Regions from separate parts of the Homo sapiens genome. Here region 2 is linked to region 1. Evidence: fine-mapped expression QTL. A gene starts in region 1. The other region holds a variant in brackets. All regions are shown on one strand. Distances are from middle to middle. Region 1 holds the start of DLST (dihydrolipoamide S-succinyltransferase). Region 2 overlaps LTBP2 (latent transforming growth factor beta binding protein 2).

What was found.
Region 2: its variant is fine-mapped to the expression of DLST in whole blood (INTERVAL, PIP above 0.99).

What each region holds. Positions count from the first base shown.
Region 1 is chr14:74,877,091-74,885,611 of GRCh38, reverse strand. DLST (dihydrolipoamide S-succinyltransferase) reads right to left here and starts at 3,696. Exons shown (of 15, transcript NM_001933.5): 1 at 3,596-3,696; 2 at 2,988-3,021; 3 at 1-26. The coding sequence starts at 3,658. RefSeq lists silencers at 3,352-3,681, 3,538-3,764.
Region 2 is chr14:74,603,272-74,611,271 of GRCh38, reverse strand. LTBP2 (latent transforming growth factor beta binding protein 2) reads left to right here. Exons shown (of 36, transcript NM_000428.3): 2 at 7,567-7,637. Among named protein-coding and RNA genes, the nearest start is that of LTBP2, 5.0 kb to the left of the region's middle. The variant G/TG (reference allele first, on the strand shown) is at 4,415.

The DNA.
Region 1 (8,521 bases):
ACCTGGTCCCTGGCATAAGGAGACCCCTGCAAGAAACAAAATAACTCTTAACCAACAACTCTTATCTCACAAAGGATACATGCTGGGAATGGAAAAGGTCTGCTCACCCCCAACCCTGAGACAGAGCAGGATCAACGGCAACGGATATAATCTTTATCATAGAGTCCTGCTTCTCAAACTTTTCCAAAGTAGCCTTAGTGGCAGAGAGCAAATGGGTATGTGAGATCGAGTGGGTATGTGTTTGGCTGGGGAGGAAAGAGAAAAAATTTGATGGCACAGCCCAAAGTGATTATATAATCTCATCTACCTTAAAAAGCCAGAACTTTTCATTATTCCTGTATGTTTTCATAATAAAATGTCTCTACTCGCCAAGTCTTCAAATACAACTGAAGCTTGAGAAAGACATGGGATGGCTTATCCTGTGACTATACATAACCCAATTTGAGAAGCAAGGAGGATGTTTGGTCTGGGTTTGAAAAGATTGGGTTGGAAATCTTATCACCTGAATCCTAGTAGCAAAGACTTGGCTACTTTAGGCTCGGGGTCTCCAGTTTGTCCTAGAGCTGAGAAAATCATGTCCCCATCTTTCAGTTTATTGACTTCCCATGCCTTTCTGAAGTCTTCCACCCTGGTCACTCTCAACAAGGTGAGAGACCCTTTCTGCCCACCAGCTGTCCTTATCATAGTTAACTGCATTTCCCCAACTGATGACTAGTAACTACAGCTGCCTCTTCTGAATTCTTTCTTATGTCTTTTTTCTTTCAGATTAACAACTCTTTCTGAACCATGGGCTCAGGACACACCAAATGAGAGCTAGCCCTCTCTTATGCCCACCTCCTCACAAGCATCCCAAGATAGGTAAGCCAGTCACCTTTATGTCCAGCAGCCAATGACTATGCAGTGCAAATTCTAAGCATAGTATGTTTTTGAACTAGAATAGATGGCGGCTCACACTGATTTTGGGAACCTGGAGTCCAATTCAGAGTTCATCCTACAGCAAATTTCATTTGTACAGTGCTTTAGGGTTTATAAAAAGCTTTCCCATAATGACCTCATTTTGATTTTACAGTCTCACAACTCTCTGAAGTGGAACGACCATCTGCCATTATTCCCATTTCATATAAGTAGGACTTTTGGAGGTTAAGCGACTAGCCCAAGGTGAATCCCTGAGCCCAAATGCAAATCCCCAAGTGCAAGGCTCTTTCCATTGTCCTGCCCACCTATGAAGTGGAGAAAATGTTTACTGACATTGTTCAGGGTTCCCACTTGAAAAACATGTTTGTTATTGAGAGTCCACTACAAGCCGACATTGTGCTAGGGGCTTTATGTTCTCATAACTCTCAGGATAAAGTCCACACTTTACGCGATCCTGTACCGTCCAGCCCACTCTATCTTTCCTGCCAGACAGGCTTCTTCCCATGTCTATCACTGGTCAAGTCCTTTCCTGTCTGAAAACCTTTGCACAAGCAATTCCCTTTGCCTGGAATACATTTTCTTGGCTCTTTTATATTCAGGTCTCAGTTAAATGTCACTTCTTCAGGGAAGCCTTTACTGACATTCCCAACCTTCCCAAGCTGGTCTACATCATCCCACCCTCTCATCACACCCTTTAATTCCTCTCTCGTAGTAACCAAAATTTATGCCCTTGTCGGAGCATAAATGTATATTTGCTCTCTCTCTCCAGCTAGCCCATAAAATCTCGAGGCTAGAGTCTATCTATACCCCTGTTACCTAGAACAGTGGCTGGCATATAGTAAGCACTCAATAAATGATCTGTTGAGTCCATGAGTAAATGAGAACATGGTGGGTTAAGAGTTCAGGATGGGTCAGGTAGACCTGGCTTATCAACAGCTGGGTGGGTGACCATGGCCAAGGCTTTTAAGCTCTCTTGTCTTGGGTTATGCATTTGTAAAATAGAGAAAATACTTTTTACTGTTTTGAGATGATTAACTAAAAAATTCACAGAAAGCACTCATATAAATGCTTGGCACAAAGAAAGCCCACAACAAGGTCAACTCATTCAACAAATACTTAGGCTAGGCATATAACAGAAAAAAAGCTATGGATGACACTTTTTTCTTTTTAACTGCTAGGATAAAATCTAAACTCCTTCAGTCTCTATACCATCTTCTATCTCTTGCCACTCTCTCCCTTAACCAAAATACTCCGGCCAAATCACCTTTTTTCCAGCTCTTAAGTTCTGCCAACCTCTTTTCTTCCTCAGGGTCTTTGTGAATGCCATTCTCTTTCTCCTGGGCTTCACTGGGTTAGCTCCGTCACATTCTGCTAGCCATAACTTTTTTTTTTTTTTTTTTTTGAGATGGAGTCTCGCTCTGTCGCCCAGGCTGGAGTGCAGTGGCGCGAACTCGGCTCACTGCAAGCTCCGCCTCCCGGCTTCACGCCATTCTCGTGCCTCAGCCTCCCGAGGAGCTGGGACTACAGGCGCCTGCCACCACGCCCGGCTAATTTTTTGTATTTTTTAGTAGAGATGGGGTTTCACCGTGTTAACCAGGATGGTCTCGATCTCCTGACCTCGTGATCCGCCCGCCTCAGCCTCCCAGAGTGCTGGGATTACAGGCGTCAGCCACCGCGCCCGGCCATGGCCATAACTTTTAAGTCACCTCCTCAAAAAGGGCTCTTCTGTCCACCCTCGTTTCCTTCTCAGCAGTTACAAAAATTTGCCTTTGTTGGCTTGTTTAGCAACTGACACTATCCAACTAGCCTAGGAGCTCCACGAGGGCAAGAACTGTACACTTCTGTATCCACTCCTGTATCCCTAGCGTCTAGCACAGTGCCTAACACAGTAGAAACTCAACTACGAGCTAAATGAATAAGCGATAGCTCGTGATTATGTAGCATTGCGTCTCACTACTCTCTGAACCAAACTGTCTTTAAATATTATGAGAAACACAGGCACCCCCGAGTTCCTCACATACTGCTCTGCCCAGGAGGAGAGCATTTTAGGTGACGGTAAGGGCAGAACTTACCAGGCAGGGAACGTCTCCCTAGAGGGCAGTTCCCCTGTTGAGAAAGAAGACATTATCGACGTCACCCAAGATGAAAAAAAAACCCAGCTTTTTCTTTTAAGTACACGCTCAAAGCTGTCCCAGTGGTGGTGACAGGTGAATCTCGTAACTCCGAAGGTAAATGCAACACACCGTGCTGGCAGACCCAATCAACACGCTGGGCCTGCCAAACTATCTCAACTTCCCAACGGGACTCATTAATACCCACTGATTTTAACAGAGCAAGACGAGACGGGCGCCGAATCCCGCCGGAGGACTCCGCCGCGCCTCCTCCCTAACTCTGAGTCAAGTATCTGGACGGGCGCGGCTCCCCAGCTCCCGCGCGGAGGGTGGGGTACAGCAGGAAACGTTCCCCGCAGGCTGCCTGGAGAAGGCAGGGGGCCGCTGGGCTCCGCAAAACGGTCCCGAGGGCAACCACGGCCCCGGGCCGCCCAGCCCGCGCGGCCTCCGCGTCCCAGTGCCCTTGGTGCCCGGCCCGGCCGGCGCGCCGCGCCCCTGCCTTCCAGGCCGCCTCTCTGCCCGCCAACAGACTCCTCACCCGTCGGGGCCCCGGCTCGGCCAGACCGTACCTTCTGGAAGGCGGAGAGCGAGCGGCTGAACGCCCGAGACACACAGCGGGATCGGGACAGCATCACGGCGGAGGAGCCGAGGGCGGGCGGACACCGGATATAGGGCCGGACAACAACCGGAAGTGGGGCGGGCCGCAGTACCCGCCGCCCGACGAGGGGTGTTCGGAGCGAACCACTGGCAGGGGGTGGGCGCACGGCGGCGCCCAGTATCCCGGCTGCAGCGCAGGAGTCCCGCTCTCTGGAGCAGGCAACCCTAAGGCGCTCTTGGGGCCCTCCGCACTGCCTGTCAGCCTGAGGTGGTTCTCCTGAAGGTGTATACGACTGTCCCGCCACCACATTGCCCCCGGGGTCAGGCCTTCCCCTACCCTTCCACAGAACTGGCTCTGAGCTTGGCGCCCTTCTCTCTTGGGACCCGAGGGCACCGCGCCGTTCCGCCTCTGTACCTTGGGAAGAGAGCAAAAGAGGGGCACGGACATTGAACTGAAACCTTGGCAGACATGCATGCCTGATCTTACACTTGTGTGGCCTGGGGCAGATGACATTGCCCCCCACCCCCAGTCTCAGGTCCCTTAACTATTAAAAAAAAAAAAAAAGGCACTTGTTACTTCCCTGTCTTCCTAACCCCGAGTCAAAGAAACAGAATCCCAGGAATTTCTAAATCCCATTGCCTTTTTACGAGTCGGATATCTTCACCAACTATAGCCTTATTTCTCAACAGCTTCTGATCTCCCCCCAACGCAAATTCCAGCCAAACTAATTGTTCCCCATACATCTTGTGCATTTTGGAAGTTGTTCGTTTGTCACCCTATCCCTAGAATATAAACTCCCAGCTGTTTTTTTAAGAAACAAGGTCATAGTTCACTGGAGCCTCGACACTCTGGGCTCAAGCGATCCCTCTGCCTCAGCCTCTGGAGTAGCTGGGACTACAGGTGCCACCATGCCAGGCTGACCTCCCCACTTTGAGTGTGCCATTCTTCCCGCTGACTTGAAGTGAAAGCATATAGCATCCCCTTCCCCTCCTTAAGTATTCAGGCCCCTTGAGTATTCACCTTTAAGGCTCACCTTCCTAATGAAAAAGATGTGCTTTAAACCTCTGGCTGAATTAGTAACACATAAATGTATGAATGAATGAATGAACCACTTGGTGCCGTTCATGATGATTTCTTTATCTGAGGCATTTTGCCTGGCCCTCAGGACCTTTATTTTTTATTTTTCTAATTAATTTATGTTTTAATATAAATTGAGACGGGGTCTCACTATGTTGCCCAGGCTGGCCTCAAATTCCATCAGGACCTTTACAGTGCCTTCACTCACCTGAACCCTGAAAGCACTGCCACTGAAATTCTGGAAGGATGGGCCAAAGTCCTAACTAGAAATAGAGAAAACAGCTCTGCCCTGCTGCTACCCACAATTAACTCCTCAGTAGCTTTCACCTGAATTATTTGAAAAGCTCCCTAAGCAGTTCTAAGCCTCCGCTCTCGCTTTCTCTAGCCCATCATCCTTTATATCTGTGTCAAAGATCCTTCTGAGCCTGGTGTGGTAGCTCACGCCTGTAATCCCATCACTTTGGGAGGATGAGGTGGGTGGATCACTTGAGATCAGGAGTTCAAGACCAGCCTGGCCAACATGGTGAAACCCCATCTCTACTAAAAATACAGAAATTAGCTGGGTGTGGTAGTGAATGCCTGTAATCCCAGCTACTCGGGAGGCTGAGGCAAGAGAATTGCTTGAACCCAGGAGATGGAGGTTGCAGTGAGCCAAGATTGCACCACTGCACTCCAGCCTGAGCAACAGAGTGAGACTTCGTCTCAAAAAAAAAAAAAAAAAGAAAGTAAAGAAAAAAAAGAAATCCTTCTGAAATGCAAACCTAATCCTGTCACTCCTCTGATTAAAGTCTTTCATTGCTTCTCCTGGTCGGATAAAGCAAGGGAGATAAAGTTTATCTCCCTTGTAGGATAAAGTACAAACTCCTCAACTTGGCCAGGCACCTGATAATCAGGCCTCTGATTATGTTCTGATTCTCTCCCCACATTCTCACAGATTGTGAGCTTTAGTCAAACCACACTACTGGCCATAGCCTTGCTGAGCTATTTGCATGGGCTGTTTCCTCCTCCTATTTGCCTAGGAACTCCTAGTCATCCTTTAAATCTCCTTCTTAATCCCTTCCTAACCCCTCTGGCAGAGTTAACAGATACATTTTCTATGCTTCCAAAGCACTGTGTCTGGGTTTCTACATTGCATTTTATTGTAATGTCCTGTTTACCTGTCTGTCTCCCATGCTGCATAGAGCAGCAGGTGGAAAGAGACCACTCTCTATTTTCCTGAATTTTCCAAACACAACACCTGGGACATCAGAGTTCCTGGGACTCTGTAGGTACTCAATAAATATTTGTGGAATGACTAAATACTTCCATGTTTACAACATTGGTGGACACAGCTGAAGAATCCAAGAACGGTAGTCAGGGGCTATGGCAATTTCTTGCCAGTGTTGCTGTTAATATTTTTCTTAGATAGCTACCCAGTCCTTTCACGGTCTTTTTTTTTTTTTTTTTTTTTTTTTTTTTTTGAGATAGAGTCTTGCTCAGCTGCCCAGGCTGGAGTGCAGTGGCATGATCTCATCTTGGCTCACTGCAACCTCTGCCACTCGGGTTCAAGTGATTCTCCTGCCCCAGCCTCCCGAGTAGCTGGGACTGCAGGTGCGTGCCACCATGCCCAGCTAATTTCTGTATTTTTAGTAGAGACGGGGTGTCAGACAGGGTGTCACTGTATTTTTAGTAGAGACAGGGTGTTGGCCAGGATGGTCTCAAAATCTTGACCTCATGATCCGCCTGCCTTGGCCTCCCAAAGTGCTGGGATTACAGGCTTTCACAGTCTTTAACAATTTTTGAGATTCTTATAGAAGGTGTAGAGGCTTCAGGCTGGGCACGGTGGCTCACGCCTGTAATCCCAGCATTTTAGGAGGCTGAGGCAGGCGGATCACGAGGTCAAGAGATCAAGACCATCCTGGTTAACACGGTGAAACCCCGTCTCTACTAAAAATACAAAAAATTAGCCGGGCCTGGTGGCGGGTGCCTGTAGTCCCAGCTACTAGGGAGGCTGAGGCAGGAGAATGGCGTGAACCCGGGAGGTAGAGCTTGCAGTGAGCTGAGATCATGTCACTGCACTCCAGCCTGGGTGACAGAGCTAGACTCCGTCTCAAAAAAAAAAAGATGTAGAGGCTTCAAGACTTCAAGCCTGGTTATAATGTGGCAAAGCACTTCTGGAGTTTTAGTGATCACCCAAGTTAATCTTAGATATTACAGTCTAAAGACACCACACACACACACACACACACACACACACACACACTCGAGCATGGTTTCATACAAAATCCCATTGAGAGGGTAAAAGTTGAAATTGATTTCCTCGAGATTCACATACGAGCTTCCATGGACTCCAAGCTGCAACCCAATAAGCTAGGGCACTCCTTCATTTAGAGCTTCCCAAGACACAGCACCATCTACTGGGGCAAGAGTTTATGAATATAAATTGTGGCAGGGCTCAAAAGAGAATTTTTTTTTTTTTTTTGAGTGGAATCTCACTCTGTTGCCAGGCTGGAGTGCAGTGGCATGATCTTGGCTCACTGCAACCTCTGCCTCCTGGGTTCAAGCGATTCTCCTGCCTCAGCCTCATGAGTAGCTGGGACTACAGGCGCCCACCACCATGCCCGGCTAATTTCTGTATTTTTAATAGAGACAGGGTTTCACCATGTCGGCCAGGATGGTCTCGATCTCTTGACGTAGTGACCCCTCCACCTTGGCCTCCCAAAGTGTTGGGCTTACAGGCGTGATCCACTGTACCCGGCCCAAAAGATAATTTTTAAAAACATTTTCATTGTAAAATACGTATTAAAAAGGATATAAAAATCTATGTGTCCAGTTTAAAAGAAAAATAATAAAAGGAATTCCCATACTTGCTGCCCAGCTGAAGGAATGGAAAAGTTCCCTGTGGTCTCCTCCATCATCACACCCAGTTAGCCACTACTATACTGAATTATATATTAACCATCCCCTTGTTTTCATTATAGCTTCAATATGCTTATGTTCTATACACATTTTTGCCTGTGTTTTTAAATTAAGAAAAAGATGTCTCCAGCAGTGGTCTGATATAGAAAAAAATAAAAAATGAAAATGAAAGATGTATTTACTTTCAAATTAAATAAGAAAAAAGGTGTGTTTTTAGAAAGGATTAAGTAGCTCATTTACCTCAAATCCCCCGGTTTTCTTATGTGTGTTCTGAACCATACATTCACATCCTTGCCTATGAGTTTATGAATATTATCGGCCAGCTAGTAGATGGGGCTATAGCCTATGCTTCCATCTTTGGGCTCCTTAAAATAGGGACTATGCCCTATATTCACTCAGTGTTACCTATGATACCTAGATTCCATCTATCTGTCTATCTCTTCATTCAGTTGTAATTCAAAATAATGGACTGATGAATACACAATGAAAATCTAGACATGTTTTTGTGTGGGTATTTTTTTTTGGTCTATTTTTTAACTTAGTAGAAATGGAATCACAGTGCCTGTATCATTCTGTAACTTACTTCTTTTTTTTTTTTTTTTTTTGAGACGGAGTCTTGCTCTGTTGCCCAGGCTGGAGTGCAGTGGTGTGATCTCGGCTCACTGCAAGCTCTGCCTCCCAGGTTCATGCCAGTGTCCTGCCTCAGCCTCCCAAGTAGCTGGGACTACAGGCACCTGCCACCATGCCCGGCTAATTTTTTGTGTTTTTTAGTAGAGACGGGGTTTCACCGTGTTAGCCAGGAGGTCTCAATCTCCTGACCTTGTGATCCACCCACCTCGGCCTCCCAAAGTGCTGGGATTACAGGCGTGAGCCACTGCGCCCACCCTTTTTTTTTTTTTTTTGTAATGGGGTCTCACTCTAT
Region 2 (8,000 bases), 270 kb after region 1:
AGAGTTGAAGGCAGATAGATCATCATCCTCATCCTTTCTTACCAACTCTCCCGGAGCCCCGACGTTAAATCCTTTCGCAAGGCGCCTCTCCACTCGCCCGCGTTCCTCCTGCCTGCAACTAACGAGCTCTTGTAGACTCTTGCAGCGCTGCCGGGATCTGAGAGGCAGCGGGGAGAGGGCAGGAGGGTGGGCGCTCCAGGCTCTTGACGCCCAGGGGAGGTTGAGCTGGCTCAGAGCGCGGGTTGGCGGAGGTGTCGGGGGCCCCATGGAGAGAAGGTAGATGCGTCTCCAGGAGGGGAGCCGGCAGCGAAGCTGGTGCGTCGGGACAAGTGTCGTGGGGCGTGGGTCGGCCTGCGCACGCTGAGGGCTGGATGCGGGCGTGGGCGTGAGCTCTGGGTACTTTGGGCGGGAAGCGTGTCCTGATGAGGCTGCGACACAGTGGGCGCGTGGAGAATTGGATCAGTGTGCTCTTGTGCATCTAGGTGTAAGCGTGACTTGGGCGCGTTGCAGGGCTAAGCCACCGCACAACCCTGCAATTTACTTTTTTGCTCCCCCTGGGCACCACCCCCTGCCCACCGCGGGCGCCGTCGCAGAGTGAGAAGATGCCCCAGTAATCCCCATCCCCAATCGGATCATCATGGCTGCGGGCACGCTCCGCCTTGCCTGGGTATGGCAGGTGCCTCTGGAATGGAGGGCACTGAGCCCTGGGCAGTGAGGGGCTGGGTGGGGGCACCATCGGGAAGTCTGGGAAGGGCTTTGGCAGCCTCTCTTTGCCTGGGCCCGATTTGCCAGTTGGGTTTAGTCCTGGGGAACAGCATGAAAGACACTTGTACCCCGAGTCCTACTCCAAGGACCTTGCACTTCGCAGCCTTGGCGCTCTGTTTTCCTTGGCGCTCTGTTTTCCTTGGCTGGAGCGCTCTTCTCATATTTCAGCAGGATTGAGCTCTGTCTCTTTCAGATTTCTGCTCAGAGTGACTTTTGGCCACCCGTGCCCCATCCTCTTTCTCCTTTCACCCTGCTTTATGTTTCTTCATAGTACTTATTCTATCTGATATGTTCTATTCCTATTTATGTGTTTATGGCCTGGCCTCCCAGCCCACACTAATGCAAGCTCTATGCAAACAGGGACTTCGTTGTGTCCATTTCTGTGTCTCTTGTGCCTAGAATAGTGCCTGCACTGGTTGGTATTCTCTAGGTATCTGTTGAATGAGTGGATGAACTCCCTGCTGCCCATGGAAGGCCCAGCTTCAAGCAGGCAGAGAGTAGACCCATGCACTGCCAAGTCGCTTACACATAGGATCATTCAACAAGTCTTAGTGGAAAGCACCTGCTGTGTTTCAGCGTTTTCCTTTCCTGATCTGTGCAAGTGAATGCATGCTTCCAAGGATCCTGCGTGCAGAGCATGGGAAAGGGGATGGAGGCCCAGAGTCCAAGGCATTGTTCCTGCTGGGAGAGCAACCCAATTACTTAATATCACGTTGAAGAAATGAACAGATGCTTTCTAGTACTGGAAGGTTCCTGTTAAGTGCAAAGGAGTGGGGCAACTGTAGCTGAAGAGCTGAGTAGAGGGGACCTGTGACCTGGGGCCCCTGGGGCTCTGTGGGCAGCATGTGGGGAAGCAGAGGGGAGGTGGCAGGAGGGGGGCCTGGAGGTGAGGGTGGTGTGCAGATGTAGCACTGCCCAAGGACAAGGGCTTTTTACTGTTGGCACTGGCCCAGGGGTAGCACTGCAGCTTTGGTGTAGGGGAACCTAGAGACATAGCTTGGGCTGGAGCAGGGAGGAGCTTGTACTGCAGGCATTTAGGTGCAGGTGAGGTGCGGGGGAAGGTGGGGAAGTGGAGCGTGGGGGCTGGAGGGTGCACTATTAGAAGTCATGAAATAAAGCGAATTGTCACTACAACAAAGCTGGTGGATGTGAACAGGCATGTGAAGACATGGGCTGGGTGCCACCTGCTGTACACAGGTGCACACATCACATGACACACTGGTCAGGCTCCTCCCCCACATTGTCTTCTGCAGCTTTGATAAAGAGTGGGTTCCCTGACACTCCAGTCAGCCACTCCATGTCAGCTGGGGAGGACCTGAGGGGTCATCTTGTTTATTCTCTTCCTCCACCCTGGTCCATTCTGGCTAATGGCTTCTAGTCAGGCTGATCAGGTTGGCCATTCATTGCCTTGTGAGCTGCAGACAGCCAGGGACCAAGTGCCACCTCCTGGTGAATCTTGGAACTGCACCACTGCTACTGGAGCTTCTTCATTCATTCGACAAATATTTTGGAAGAACTTCTATACCCAGGCCCTATACTGGATCTTGAGGATATAGCAGTGACCAAGACAGGCATACTCTGTCCTCATGGAACTTTCAATGTAGAAAAGATTTATTGCACATAATAAAGACTTATTAAGTTTGTGCCAGGCTTGATGCTAGGTATTTGGGATACAGCAGTGACCAGAGTGGACACCGTCCCTACGCTAATGAAATTTACAGTCTACAGGGTTTCTTTTTCATTTCTTTTCTTTTCTTTATTCTTTCTTTCTTTTTTTCTTTTTTTTTTTTTCTTTTTTTTGAGATAGAGTCTCTTGCCCTGTCACTCAGGCTGGAGTGACATTATTTCGGTTCACTACAACCTCCACCCCCGAGGCTCAAGCAATTCTCGTGCCTCAGCCTCCCTAGTAACTGGGATTATGGGCGCACGTCACCACACCCGGCTAATTTTTTGTATTTTTAGTAGAGATGGGGTTTCGCCATGTTGGCCAGGCTGGTCTCAAACTCCTGAGCTTAAGCACTACACCCACCTTGGCCTCCCAAAGTGCTGGGATTACAGGTGTGAGCCACCACGCCTGGCCTCTATAGGGTTTTTTGAACCAGCCTCACAGCAGACCACCTGTATAATATTTTTCTCTACCTTTCCCTCTTGTTCTGTTATTATTTTTCTTTAACTTTATATTCTGTTAAAATAACAGGATTTTGTGTTTTATCTGTTTTAAAGTATATTATGAAGTTTTATAAATGCACTAAAAGGTATTGAAAATAATATAACATAGTCTAGTTTTGGCCGGGCGCGGTGGCTCATGCCTGTAATCCCAGCACTTTGGGAGGCTGAGGCGGGTGGATCATGAGGTCAGGAGATCGAGACCATCCTGGCTAACAAGGTGAAACCCCGTCTCTACTAAAAATACAAAAAATTAGCCGGGCGCGGTGGCGGGCGCCTGTAGTCCCAGCTACTCGGGAGGCTGAGGCAGGAGAATGGCGTGAACCCGGGAAGCGGAGCTTGCAGTGAGCCGAGATTGCGCCACTGCAGTCCGCAGTCCGGCCTGGGCGACAGAGCGAGACTCCGTCTCAAAAAAAAAAAAAAAAACATAGTCTAGTTTTATCAAACCTTAATATTTTGACATATTTTGATTCCAGTTTTTTAGTTGAAATTTCCTCTATAAATTTGCCTCCTTCCCTCCCCAGAGTTAACCACTACCCTGAATTTAATTAATTCCAATAGATGTTTTTACAATATTACTATAGATACATGTATCCACAAAATATACAATGTTGTTTTGCATATTTTAAACTTAGATAAGTGAGACCCTATTTCATTATTCTTCTGCAATTTGTTTTTCCCCTCCTCATTAGATTTTTGAGATTTAACCATGTTAATATAATTAGCCCAAGTTTATTCATTTTAACTGTTGTATATTATTCCTTTGTCTGAATATTACCACAGTTTATCCATCCTCCTGTTTTTGGACATTTAGATGAATTACTTTTTCTAAAAGTAATTTTCTAAAAATTCTACTGAATTTTTTTGCTATTACAGACAGTGCTTGACTCATTTTTCTCCATAAATAAATTCATAACTGAAAGGAAACTTTGTATCATTATCATAAGTTGAAAGCAGTACCACTTGTTATAAAGAGAAGATAACTGTAGGAAAATTGAAATGAAAACAAAATGTTCTTAAGTTCTAGTCAGACTTCATTCATTGTCTTAGGAAGCTCAACTCTGTGGCAAGTTCCCTCTATTGGAAGGGGGACTAGCGTGTGTTGAGGGGAGGACGTGGCCTTTTTCACTGACATCATTAGGTTAGAAGGATCACCAAAAAGAGAATCACTTTCTCACCATGTAACTCAGATTGTTGAATGTTGTGATCTGTAAACTTAAAATGCCTTTCCTACCCTCAGTGGCTCATCCCACTTTTTGTGAAACTCCAGATTAAATGAAACAAGTATCAATTGTATACCACATGTTGGGCACTGTGTTAGACTGTAGAGGCACAAGGAGAAATAAGAAAGAAACCTCTAGATACCCAAGACTGAGATACAACCAATGACCTGAGACAGGCAGTACTAAGTGATCACAGCAGATGCAGATGGAGAATGAGGGAAGGCTGGGTAGATGTCAGAGGAGGTGGGTTTTTTTTTTTT[G/TG]TTTGTTTTGTTTTTTGAGATGGAGTCTTGCTCTGTCGCCAAACTGTAGTGCAGTGGCACAATCTCTGCTCACTGCAGCCTCCGCCTCCTGGGTTCAAGCAATTCTTCTGCCTCAACCTCCCGAGTGAGTAGCTGGGACTACAGGTGCTTACCACCATGCCCAGCTAATTTTTAGTAGAGACGGGGTTTCACTGTGTTGGCCAGGATGGTCTCAATTTCCTGACCTTGTGATCTGCCCACCTCAGACTCCTAAAGTGCTGGGATTACAGGTGTGAGCCACCTTGCCTGGCCCAGGGGAGGTTTTATACAAAGAAGGTAATATCTGATCTGGAAGTCTTGGAGTATGCAAAGGATTTTAATCAGTAGACCAGAGAGGAAAGGCATTCTAGGCAGAGAGAGCAGCCCAGGCAAAGGCATCGAAGTGAAATCCATAGGGTAACTGGGGAGCAACAAACCTTGTATCCTTGGAGGAGCAAAGCCTTGGCTGTGGATGGTTGTGGAGACAAGGTGGGGGTGATGGGGACAATTAGACTGCACAGGAAAGTAGGCACATGGGTGCCAGGGGGCCTTGTAGAGGCCAGTGGAGAGCTGTGGGAGGTTTTTAACAAAGGGCTAGTGTGATCAGATTTGGCCCAGGTGGAATAGCAGCTCTCCCAGACTGCTAGCCAGATGTGTTCCCTACAGTGATGCTGGATACTGGGCTAATGTGTGCTGAGTGGTGTCAACTGGAAGACTGGACTCAGATGATCTCTGAGAGGTACCTTCTAGGGAGTCAGAGTGATTGAATTATATATCCCAGCTGTTCAGGCTCATTTGCTCTCTCTGCTAGCCAGAGCCCACTGAACTGACAATTCCCAGAATTCCCAGCTGGTTACCTCCCTGGGCCTGCACCCAAAACTTTAATATTGGCCTGTAGGGATCCTTAGAGACTCTCCTTGGGGACCTGAATCTCTCTTGAGTGCCCTACCAGCCCCAGCCTGGCCTCTCTGCCTGGCAGCCTTTGATTCTGGCCAATCCTCACGTGGCCTTACATCCCTTAGGGCCTACTCTGTGCAGGCAAAGCAAGGTTGGCCCCTGCCCTCCCACAGTCAGCTGCAAAGCCATCCTGAGGGCAGCTGGGGTGACGGCTGGCTCAGGGGGCCTCCTTGGGCTGGGCTCCATGCCATGACCTCCCAGCCAGGCAGGCTCCTGCGTCCGTGCTGTCTGGGTTCCCACAGGCCCTAATTCTTAGAAAATTCCCAGGGCACAGAATCTGTTTCCTCTCAGAGCCCTCCTAGCCCCACGAGAGGTCTTGTCACCACCACAAGGGGTGGTGACATAAAAGTGGGTACGTAGTTTCCCCTTCCACTGGGGCGCACCCCCGGAAACTCTGGGTCTGACAAGCAGCCCTTTCCCTGACCCCCGTGACATGGGCCCTGATGCAGCCAGGAAGCTGCTAACGGTGGTCGCCCAGAGAGGCTTTGAGGTGGCCCAAGTGGCACAACTCTTGGCTGGTGGGACATTCTGGGAGCTCCCTGGGAGGGAGGCAGTGCCCACAACTTTGGGCCAAAGGGCCAGGAATGGGCCTCCGCTTTTTCAAGCTGCAGGAATTTATTTTGAATTCTTCGTAAGACTCCAAAAACCACATAAGCTTTGGGGTCCACTCAAATGTCAAACAAACTCCTAAGTGGGACCAGATGTCGCCATGCTGGCCACAGAGATCACAGGAGTGGCCGCCCTGCTCTGTCCTTTGCCTGTCCAGCCTCTGCACTTCTCCCTCCCCTCTTACCCTCTAGTTCCAGTGCCCGGTGATGATTTCCAATGATAAGGATGGAAGCCAGAGCCCGGCCCAGCCTGCCAAGGAGTCAGTCCCTAGAGATCTCCAGGAGAAGCCCTTCTAGGGAGACGCCCTGGTCTAGGCATGTGGGTCTTTAGCTGCAGAGTCAGGGCCGGGTGGAAACTGCTGGTGCTGCTGGAGTGCGCCAGACACCCGGAAGCAAAGTTTGGGGAGCTGAGTGAATGCCCCAGCACTGTAGGTCAGCGTCTCATGGGGGTGCCCTCAGAGCCAACATCAAGGAGTAGCTGAAGGGCTGGGCGCAGTGGCTCACACCTATAATCCCAGCACTTTGGGAGGCCGAGGTGGGTGGATCACCTAAGCTCAGGAGTTTGAGACCACCCTGGCCAACATGGTGAAACCCCATCTCTATTAAGAATATTTTTAAAATTAGCCAGGCATGGTGGCAGGACTGAGGTTGCCATGAGCCGAGATCACGACATTGCACTCCAGCCTGGGCGATATAGTGAGACTCAAAAAAAAAAAAAAAGGAGTAGTTGATGGAAGAACTCTATTTCGCTATAGAGTAAGTCCTGTTTGCCTCTCAAATAAAAATTGTGCCTCCACATAAAAATTGTGCAGAGGCAGCTTAACCCACATCCCCAGCCCCATCCTCCTACCAGCTTGCCACCTTGTAAGCACCTCTTAACCAGGGATTCTAGAGCCCTGTTCCTTCAGTGCCCACTCAGGGCTCAGCCTTCCCACGCACCAGACTGCCGGGGGCTGAGACTCCTCAGTGTGCATTCGTTGGCAGGTAACACCTCGTATGACCTTGAGACTGTTTTATGTGTGTCTTCCAGCCTCCCTTGGATCGTCAGCATTGGTAGGGCAACGACCATGGTGTTTTTTTGTGTGTGTGGTTTTTTTTTTTTTTTTTTTTGGTGAGAGGCAATGTAGAGTTGGAGCATGGCTTAGAGTTGGGCCAACCCAGGTTTGAATCAGGCTCTGGCACTTACCTGCTGTGTGGAATTGGCAAGTCACTGAACCTCTCTGAAGTGGCTTATTAGCTTTAGGATCACTGTCATTGTTGCCCCAGTGGACTGCCTTCTTTATGTCAGATGTTAAACATTCTCACCTCATTTAACCATCATAACAACTCAATTAAGCAGCTATTGTTATCTCCATTGTACAGATGGAGAGAGTGAGGTTTCCCAGGGATGTGCAGAGAATGGCAGAGTCAGGATTCAATCTTAGATTTGCAAGTAGAATAGGGACAGCCTTCCCAGCCTCTCCATGTTCCTCCAGGCCCTGCCTCTAGAAGGTGGGACTGTCGGAGGGGCTGTGAATAGTCCCCAGCTCTGAGCATCCTTGTGTTGACTCTGTTTTGGTGACCCCACAGGAGGAACGTCTGCGGGGGACAGTGCTGCCCAGGATGGACAACAGCAAACAGCACCAACCACTGTATCAAACGTGAGTGCCTCCACCAGTAGCAGACACTCCGCTCTATCAAACGTGAAGTGCCATTCCCCACCCTACTCCCAGGGCAGGTCAAGCTTAGGTACTCCAGAACCTGGAGCAGAAGCGTCTTTCCTAGTCTGCGTCCTGAAGATGCAGCCCCTATTTAAAGTGGAGGCAACATCCAATGGAAGGGAAGAGGTTTAAAAATGCCTCTAGCTGGGGCCGGGAGCGGTGGCTCATGCCTGTAATCCCAGCACTTTGGGAGGCCAAGGTGGGTGGATCACTTGAGGTCGAGAGTTGGAGACCAGCCTGGTCAAGATGGTGAAACCCTGTCTCTTCTAAAAACACAAAATTAGCCAGGCGTGCTGATGGGTG